2 separate regions of the Homo sapiens genome follow, and region 1 is linked to region 2. The links come from fine-mapping of genetic effects on gene expression. A gene starts in region 2. The other region holds a variant in brackets. All regions are shown on one strand. Distances are from middle to middle. Region 1 has its middle 42 kb from the start of PRKCD. Region 2 holds the start of PRKCD (protein kinase C delta).

The links.
Region 1: its variant is fine-mapped to the expression of PRKCD in whole blood (TOPMed, PIP above 0.99).

Annotation. Positions count from the first base shown.
Region 1 is chr3:53,201,384-53,205,772 of GRCh38, reverse strand. No RefSeq gene overlaps it. Among named protein-coding and RNA genes, the nearest start is that of PRKCD, 42 kb to the right of the region's middle. RefSeq lists an enhancer at 2,573-3,072. The variant C/T (reference allele first, on the strand shown) is at 2,086.
Region 2 is chr3:53,159,335-53,163,723 of GRCh38, reverse strand. PRKCD (protein kinase C delta) reads right to left here and starts at 2,515. Exons shown (of 19, transcript NM_006254.4): 1 at 2,296-2,515. RefSeq lists silencers at 1,564-1,793, 2,064-3,013.

The sequences.
Region 1 (4,389 bases), 42 kb before region 2:
GTGTGATCTCAGCCTATTGCAACCTCCGCCTCCCTGGTTCAAGCAAATTCTCCTGCCTCAGCCTCCTGAGTAGCCGGGACTACAGGCATGTGTCACCAGGCCTGGCTAATTTTTGTATTTTTAATAGAGGTGGGGTTTCACCATGTCGGCCAGGTTGGTCTTGAATGTCTGACCCCAAGTGATCTGCCCGCCTTGTCCCTCCGAAGTGCTGGGATTATAGGCATGAGCCACTGTGCCTGGCCAGTGCCTGGCCAATACCTGGCAATTTTTGATTGGGTGCCAGACATTGTGAATTTTGCCTTATTGGGTGCTGGATATTTTTTGTGTTCTCATAAATATTCTTAGGCTTAGTTCTACAATGATTTCTTGGAAATAGTTTAATACTTTTGGGTCTTGCTTCTAAGCTTTGTTAGGCAAGACCAGAACAGTGTTTAGTCTAGGGTTAATTTTACATTTTTTTCATGTTTGAGATAGGGTCTTGCTCTGTTGCCCAGGCTAGAGTAGAGTAGCAATCAGAGCTCACTGCAGCCTTGGGCTCCTGGAATCAAGTGATCCTCCTGCCTCAGCCTCCTGAGTAGCTGGGACTACAGGTATGCACTACCACACCCAGCTAATTTTTGTATTTTGTGTAGAGACAGTGTCTTGCTATGTTGCCTAGGCTGCGGGTTAATTTTTATCTGGTACTGAGGCAAAACCTCTCTGGGTGCTCTGAACAGTGATACCTTAAATTTATACAGTTTCCAGTCTGGCATTGTTCCTAACCCTGTGTGAGTTCTGAGGATTGTTCACTTTAATTCATTTAGAGGGCTTTCTCCCCAGCCTTGGGTGGTTTCCTCAGATGCATGCAATAATCAGTACTCAGCGAAGACTTGAGGAGGCGTCTCTGCAGGTTCCAGGCTTCTTTCTCTCCTTCTTTCTCTCTCTCTCGCTCTCTTGTCCCCAGTAGGATGCACTGTGAATTCTAGCCACCTTGGCTTGCCTGGACTGCCAGCTTCATCTACTCAACTTGGGAGTCCACTGGCCTCCACCTGGATCCCCCCTCCCTGTCCCACAGCCTGGAGACCCTCTGCAGTCAGTAGAGCTGGGGCAGTCAGGGCTCAGCTCCCTCGTTTCCCATCTCTCAGATCACTGTCCTTTGTTCCTGATGTCCAGCATCTTCAGAACTGCTGTCTCATCCATTTTGTCTGGAGTTTTAGTTTTTCAGGCAGGAGGGAAAATACAGTCCCCTTTTTACTCCATCTTGACTGAAAGCAAAATTCCACACCATTTATTTGGATAAATAAATTGTGGTAAATTTATGTGATGGAATGCCATTCAATCGTTAAAAGAAATGCACTTGACCAGTCCACAAAAGACCACGTATTACATGATTCCATTTACTTGTTGTTTTGAGATGCAGTCTTGCTCTGTTGCACAGGCTGGAATGCAGTGGTGCAATCTTGGCTCACTGCAACCTCTGCCTACCAGGCTCAAGCGATTCTCCTGCCTCAGCCTCCCAGGTAGCTGGGACTACAGGTGCCTGCCCACCACCGTGCCCAGCTATTTTTTCTTTTTCTTTTCTTTTTTATTTTTTTGAGATGGAGTGTTGCTCTGTGGCCCAGGCTGGAGTGCAGTGGTGCAGTCTTGGCTCACTGCAACCTCCACCTCCTGGGTTCAAGCAATTCTCCTGCCTCAGCCTCCTGATTAGCTGGGACTACAGGTACATGCCACCACACCCAACTAATTTTTGTATTTTTAGTAGAGACAGATTTTCACCACATTGACCAGCCTGGTCTCGAATTTCTGACCTCAGGTGATCCACCTGCCTTGGCCTCCCAAACTGCTGGGATTACAGGAGTGAGCCACCTCACCCAGCCTAGGGGCTGCAATTTTATCTCTACTTGTTTCTTCATCTGGAACAGAATCACTATACTTTTTTAAATGTCTGAATGTTTTCTGATATTTTTTTTCTCTTCTGAGACAGATTCCAGGCTGGAGTGCAGTGGCACGAGCTCAGCTCACTGCAACCTCCGCCTCCCGGGTTCAAGCAATTCTCTTGCCTCAGCCTCCTGAGTAGCTAGGACTACAGGCGTGCGCCACCACACC[C/T]GGCTAATTTTTGTATTTTTAGTAGAGATGAGGTTTCACCATGTTGGCCAAGCTGGTCTCAAACTCCTGACCTCGTGATCTGCCCGCCTCGGCCTCCCAAAGTGCTGGCATTACAGGCATGAGCCACCGCACCCAGCCTTTTTTTTTTTTTTTTTTTTTTTGAGAGGGTCTCACTCTGTCACCCAGGCTAGAGTGCAGTGGCGCAATCACAGCTCATTACAACCTTGACCTCCCAGGCTCGAGCGATCCTCCCGCCTCAGCTTCCCAAGCAGCTGGGACCACAGGTGGACCACCATGCCTGGCTAATTTTTTAAGAGATAGAGTCTCACTATGTTGCCTAGGCTGATCTCGAACTCCTGGGCTCAAGTGATTCTCCCACCTGGAAATCATATCACAACTCACAAAGTGCTAGGATTAGAGGAGTGAGCCACCATGTTTTCCTAATAAGACAACTTGTTAGATAAATCACTCATTTTCCCTCATGCCAGGTGCCCTTCCGTACCCTGCAGGTGCAGCACCCCGCTGAGGCCAAAAGCCCAGTGCTTTGGTTTGACTTCCCATCGCCAATGCAGAAAACCACTAGAGAGTTTAACAAACAACTTTTCCTCTTCTCTTGAAGTTTGTCTTTGGCTTCCACTGAAAAAACAACTTTCCTGCCACCCCTGCCTGTACTCCATCTCCTCCAACCTTCTAAAAGCCCCCGGAAAAGGCTGTGGAGCTGGTTGGGGAGCCATCAGTAGTACCCCTGTGGGCACAGCTGCCCCCGTGCCTCCACCGGTGGCCGCTGCTCCGCCCTCTCTCCCCAGACAGGTTGTCAAGCTGCCACTGCCACGAATTCTCCCATCAGCACAGCCACTGCCTGCCGCCTCCAACAACAACTGCCAGGCTCATTATAACCTCCACCTGCTGGCCACAGCAACCGCCTCTTAGCACACCCAGTGGCGGTGGTTAAACTACTTTATTAAACCCATCATCTCACCTCTACTGGTTCCCCCTCACTGAGAGCTCACTTTTGATCCAGCCTCACACAGGCTGAAGTGGGACTAAATTAGGCCTGGCCTCGGCAGTGCAGGTGCTGCACCAATGGCTAGCCAGAGGTGGGAGCAGAGATGCTGTTCCTCAGGGGACCGCATGTCCTTGGGCCAGGGTGCCTGGTTGTTGGGCCAGGATTCCCAGGGTCATGCACACCCCTGCCTTTGCCCAGCTCCCCGGGCTTTGCTCAGGCTGCTTCCTCTGCCTGAGACTGCCTGACCCCAGCGTCTCGCCTACTCATTCTTTCTAATTTTTAAAAACTGTGAAATGTCATATCCATAAAGAAAAGCACATAGAACAAAAGAACAGTATAACAAATTATTATAAAAGGACGCCTGGGTAACCAGCCATCAGATCAAGAGTCAGAACACCTACATATTCTTTAAAAGACACTTTAAAAAATTATGGATCATTTGGAACACAGAGACAAGCACAGAGACTAAAATAGACAACGAGCATCCTCATCTGTGTGACTCTTGAGGCCACCAAGGCTGTCCCCAGCAGAGACACTGCTGGTCTTCAGTGCCCACAGAGTGCCAAATGACTTTCCAGGAGAATGGGGCCAACTTACATTCCCACTGCTGCGAATAGTGCCTCCCCCATAACCCCGCCCTGCCCAACACCTACACCTACCACCAGCACTGGGTATTATCAGACTTGAAAAGTTTTGCCAGACTGACTGTGAGAGCTACTCATTCTTTGGGTCTCAGGATTACATGTTCCTCCTGATACAGGGCAGATGAGCCTCAAAACTGGGGCTTAGCCTCGGAGGGTTCTTGGCTTTACCCAGAAAAGAATCCAAGGCCAAGCAGTGGTGTTAGGCAGCAATTTCTTTTGTTGAGACAGAGTCTCCCTTTGTTGCCCAGGCTGGAGTGTAGTGGCACAATCTTGGCTCACTGCAACCTCTGCCTTCTGGGTTCAAATGGTTCTCCTGCCTCAGCCTCCCAAGTAGCTGGGATTACAGGTGCCCACCACCACGCCTGGCTAATTTTTGTGTTTTTGTATTTTTAATAGAGACGGGGTTTCACCATATTGGCAGGCTGGTCTTGAACTCCTGAGCTCAGGTGATCCACCCACCTCAGCCTCCCAAAGTGCTGGGATTACAGGTGTGAGCCACCGCACCTGGAGGACAGCTATTTCTATGGAAGCGGCAGCGTGCAGCAGCATGCAGCAGCAGCAGAGGCACTGCTCCTTGCAGGGCAGGGCTACCCCACAGGCACTGTGCCGTGAGTAGCCACGCAGAGGCAGTTCTGCAGTCAAATTTATACCCAC
Region 2 (4,389 bases):
CCCAGCTCCCAGGAGAATGGGAACCGTATAGCTGGGGGTGGTGACAACAAAAGACTTCACATGTGCTGTGTTCTCACTATGGGCCAAGATTGTGTTAAAGGACCTTTAACACAGGAACTTTTGTCCTCACTCTCTCCATTCTGCAGATAAGGACACTCAGCCTTGAGAGGCCTAGCTTGGGTCTCTTGCTCTTAACAGGCACAAGCAAGTATTGGAGCCCAAATAATTCTTGGGTACAGAGCCCGAGGTCTTGGTCACAACACTACAAACCCCAAGACTTGCCCTCTAGCCCTCTCCATGTGCACACCCACATCCTCATGGTCTCCCACACACTCACACACACACCCCCACACTGGGCTCTCACCTTCCCTCCCAGCACTGTCACCACACACCTTGTCACACCCCCTCCTGCCGCTAACACCCACGCCCAGGCACTCTCGGTTCCCCACAATCACAGTCACTCCCCAAGCATACACCGGCAGTTTCATAGACTGTGTCCCACCAGTCACACACTCCTACCGTGGCCACACACTCCCAGGCTTACCCCAGCACTGTCCCATCGCATAGCCCTCACACCACCCATCAGCCAGGTACAGCTGCCCAGACACCACCACACCTCTCTGTCACACACACACGCACACACACAACCACACATATCACACATGCACCATACAGCCTCCCTCTGCTGGCCTGCTCACCAAGCCCCAGCTCACTCCACAGCAGGAACGAGGAAACCCCAGGGATCAGTCCCCTCCCTTAGTGACCAGGTGGGCCTGGTCACAGAAACTCAGTGGCAGAGGGAGAGCCACACGTGAGTACACACACATACACACACTTATACAGATACACTCACACATGAGACTGGTGGGTAGGCACCCAACACCAGGGGCTTCCACAATTAACAGATCTAACGTACTCATGGCCAGTTGGTCACCATGATATACCCAGTGTGCAACACCGAAACCTCCAGACACACAGGGACACACACACTAGCAGGCAAGGACACACACACACACACACACACACACGAGTCTGGTGACAACAAACACACCAAGAATGGTACACACAGTTGCAAAAGACACACACAGAGCCTCAGGACACAAACAGACATACACACATACACACAAGCAAGTCACACATGCGAAAAAGGACACACATGCACAGGCAAGTCCCACAGTGACAGACAGCACAGAAGCTGACACAGACACACAACATACCCACACACCCAGATACCAGTGACTTAGCACAAGGAGACAGCTTCCACGCATACAGGGTAGGCGTCAGAGAAGGGGACCCCCCGCCCACTCACAGCAGATCCTTCTGACCAGGTTTAAGGCGGGGCTCGGTGGGGCTCTCCCCTGCCCCAAGAGAGAGGGAACTGGGGAAGTGGGAGCAGTTCCGATGGTGCTCTCCTTCTGCCGCTCCACCACCAGCCAGGAGGACCCCCCCCCCCGACCTCCTCCCCTCATCTGGTGGAGCCCCCACAACGGGAGTGGCATCTGGGTTGGGGGCGAGTACAGACCGTATCGGGCAGGGGCCACCCTGGGAGGGGTCTCAGAGGGGCGGAGGGGTGGGGTGGGAAGGGGGATGGTGGAGACTGGAGCCACGCCCAGCCCAGAGACGGATGAAGGGACCGAGAAAGACTCTTGAGACCGAAAGAAGAGACAGCGAGGAGGAGGCGCCGCGCGGGTCGGGCCTCCAGGGACCCAGGGGCGGGAGGCGAGGCCCGGCGGGCGGCCTGGCCTGGGCCCCGCGGTAGAGCGGAGAGGCGGCTGGACTGGCAGGGGGCGGCGAGCGTGGGCCGGGGGCGCGGCTCCGGGAGGACGGGATCGAGGGGGCGGCGGGCGGGGGTAGGGGTGTGGGTGGGGGTGGGGCGATGGAGCACGCGGAGGGCAAGGGACGGACGGATCGGGTGGCGAGGGACAGAAGGATCGGGTCTCGGAGAGGCGCGCAGGGGGAGAACACAGAGTGGGTGGCGACAGACGGACGGACACAGGGCCCGGGAGAGAGTCGGGAGGGACGGACGGGCCCCTCGGAGGAGCGGGAGACACACGGGCGGGTGGAGGGGCCGGGAGCGGGCAGACAGAAGGACCTCAGCCCCCACTGTCTAGCGGAGGGACACACAGACGGACAGGGGGACGGAGTCACCGGCAGGTCTCGGCGCGGCGGGACTTTCGCTGACCGCGGCTCAGTTTCTCAGTTTCGGAAACGGGAACTGGGGCGGGAAGGGGGAAGGAAGGGCGCCGCGCCCTCGGGGTAGCCCCGATCCCGCGCCCGGACCCGGCCCTCACTTACCTCCCGTTGCAGGGGCAGGCGCCAAGGGTCGCGGCGGCAGCGGCGGGGGCGCCGCTCCCCGGCGCGCGCGGACGGGGTTCGGCGCGGCGCTGACTGGGATGGGCCAAGCGGCCAGTGAGGTGTGGCCCGGGCCTCCGCGCGGCGGGCGGGCGCCGGGGGTCGCTCGGGAGATGTGGGCTACAGCCGCCTCGGGCTCCGGCGCCGCGGCACACGGAAGTGCGAGGGGGCGGGGCCGAGCGACCTCACCCAGGTGCCGCCGGCCCCGCCCCCGCCAGGCCCCGCCCCCGCCAGGCCTCGCCCTGCCAGGCCTCGCCCCGCCAGCTGCAATCGGGGACAGCGTCCCTCCGCCTCTGCCTGCGCGGGACACCGAGTCTCCCGGTCCCTCTGCCCTGCCTGGCCCTCTTCGCATCCTCCCGCCATTAGCGCGCAGCCAGCCCTCAGAAGGGGCCCATTTTACAGAGGAGGACGCTGAGGCCCGGTGGGGAGGCTCCCTCCGCCCGCTGGGGCCTGGGAGGGGCCGGCGGGGGTTCCCCCGCTCCCCACACCCACGCCCGGGACTCCCCACTGGCCAGCTGGCCCGCCTCTCCTGGCCCCACTCCTGCTCTTCCTGTTGGCTGGAGCTCGGACGCGGCCGGGCGCGGTGCCCGCCGCCAAGCCCGCTGTCCCGGCTCTGCCCCAAAGACTGAGCTGGTTAGACTCCAGGGTCGGAGGTTCTCGCTGGTCGGGCGCTGCACTGCTCCTCAGGCGGTTCTGGGAACTGCCCCTACTCGGACTGGCAGTTGCCCCTACCCCGATTGGCAGTCTTCTGCTTTCCTGCCCCCACCTTTGAGACCTCTCTATTGCTCCTGGCAGGCGCCTGAGCCTCCTTTCCAGACATGGAACTTGGTTGTCAGCCATAACTCCTTCATTCATTCATTCACTCATTCATCTATTCACCGAGTGTCCCCTAGGCTCAAAGTCTAGGGACCAGTTGGGGTTCTAGGGAGTCCATTCCCCTGTCCCCAGAGCTCAGAAAGCCAAGACATTAGCCTTATACTCATCCAAAGAAATGTCACTTCCCAGGAGACAAAAAAGAGGGTTCCAGGTCCTGGGGAACCACCTAGAAGGGATAGAGAAAGTCTAGACAGCTCTTCCCAGCTGAGACACAAGGGATGGAAGTGGGGGACAATCCCTGAGGTGGCCTGAGCTGAGAAAGGGGCTTGTGACAGAGACAGGCCATTGGACTTTGGTCTTCTCACAGAGCAATGAGAAGGTGGTGAAAGCTATTACAACCAGGCAGGATGACAGGCTCAAGGGGGCTCCTGCGGGATAGATGGGGCAGAGGGACAGCAGGGCAGAGGAGAGGCTGGATGGGGGACAGAAGGGCTGCCACGTTGTTCAGGTGGGAGGACCCTGGTTGAGATTGCGGAAGATGGATGGGGAGAAAAGGCCAGACCAGGTGGGTTCAAGGACTATCCTTTGGGAAAGACTTTCTCTTCACACCCAGGCCTTGAGCATGCTGTTCTCTGGGCCTGAATGCCATTTCCCACCCCACCCCCAAACCTCTACCTGCCCTGGTTGTGTCCATTCAAATGTCCCTCCTCCCTGATGCCCAGTTGTAATGCACGGCACTTCCCTGAGTGAAGGACCATATTCATTAGCATGTTCTGTGTCCTGATCCCATCCCACCCCACCCATCATGCCCCATGGCTTCCCTGGGGTTGGACTGGAGGAAAGGGTAAACAAGGTGAGCCTCAAGTGACCTTTGCCCACTTGGGATCGGGTTTCCTTCTGGCTCCTCCTTCAGGTCCACAGTAAGCCAACCCAGTCTCTCCCTCAACATAAACAATAGGCCCACCCTGTGCCAGGGACTGCAGCCAGAGGGAGGACTGACCCTTGAGGAGCTCCAGGTCCAGCCACCAGACCTTTGTTCCCACTCCGTGTGGTTCACCATGGAAGAAGGAAATGAATAATCATGGCTATCGCTGATAGGGGCTACCCAGCACCAGGCTGTGTGCTGGGTGCTGGATGTGGGCAGTCTGAACAGTTCTCAAGAGGTGAGGGCTGCTGTTAGTGCCAGTTTTGGTGATGAGCAAACTGAGGCTCAGAGAAAGG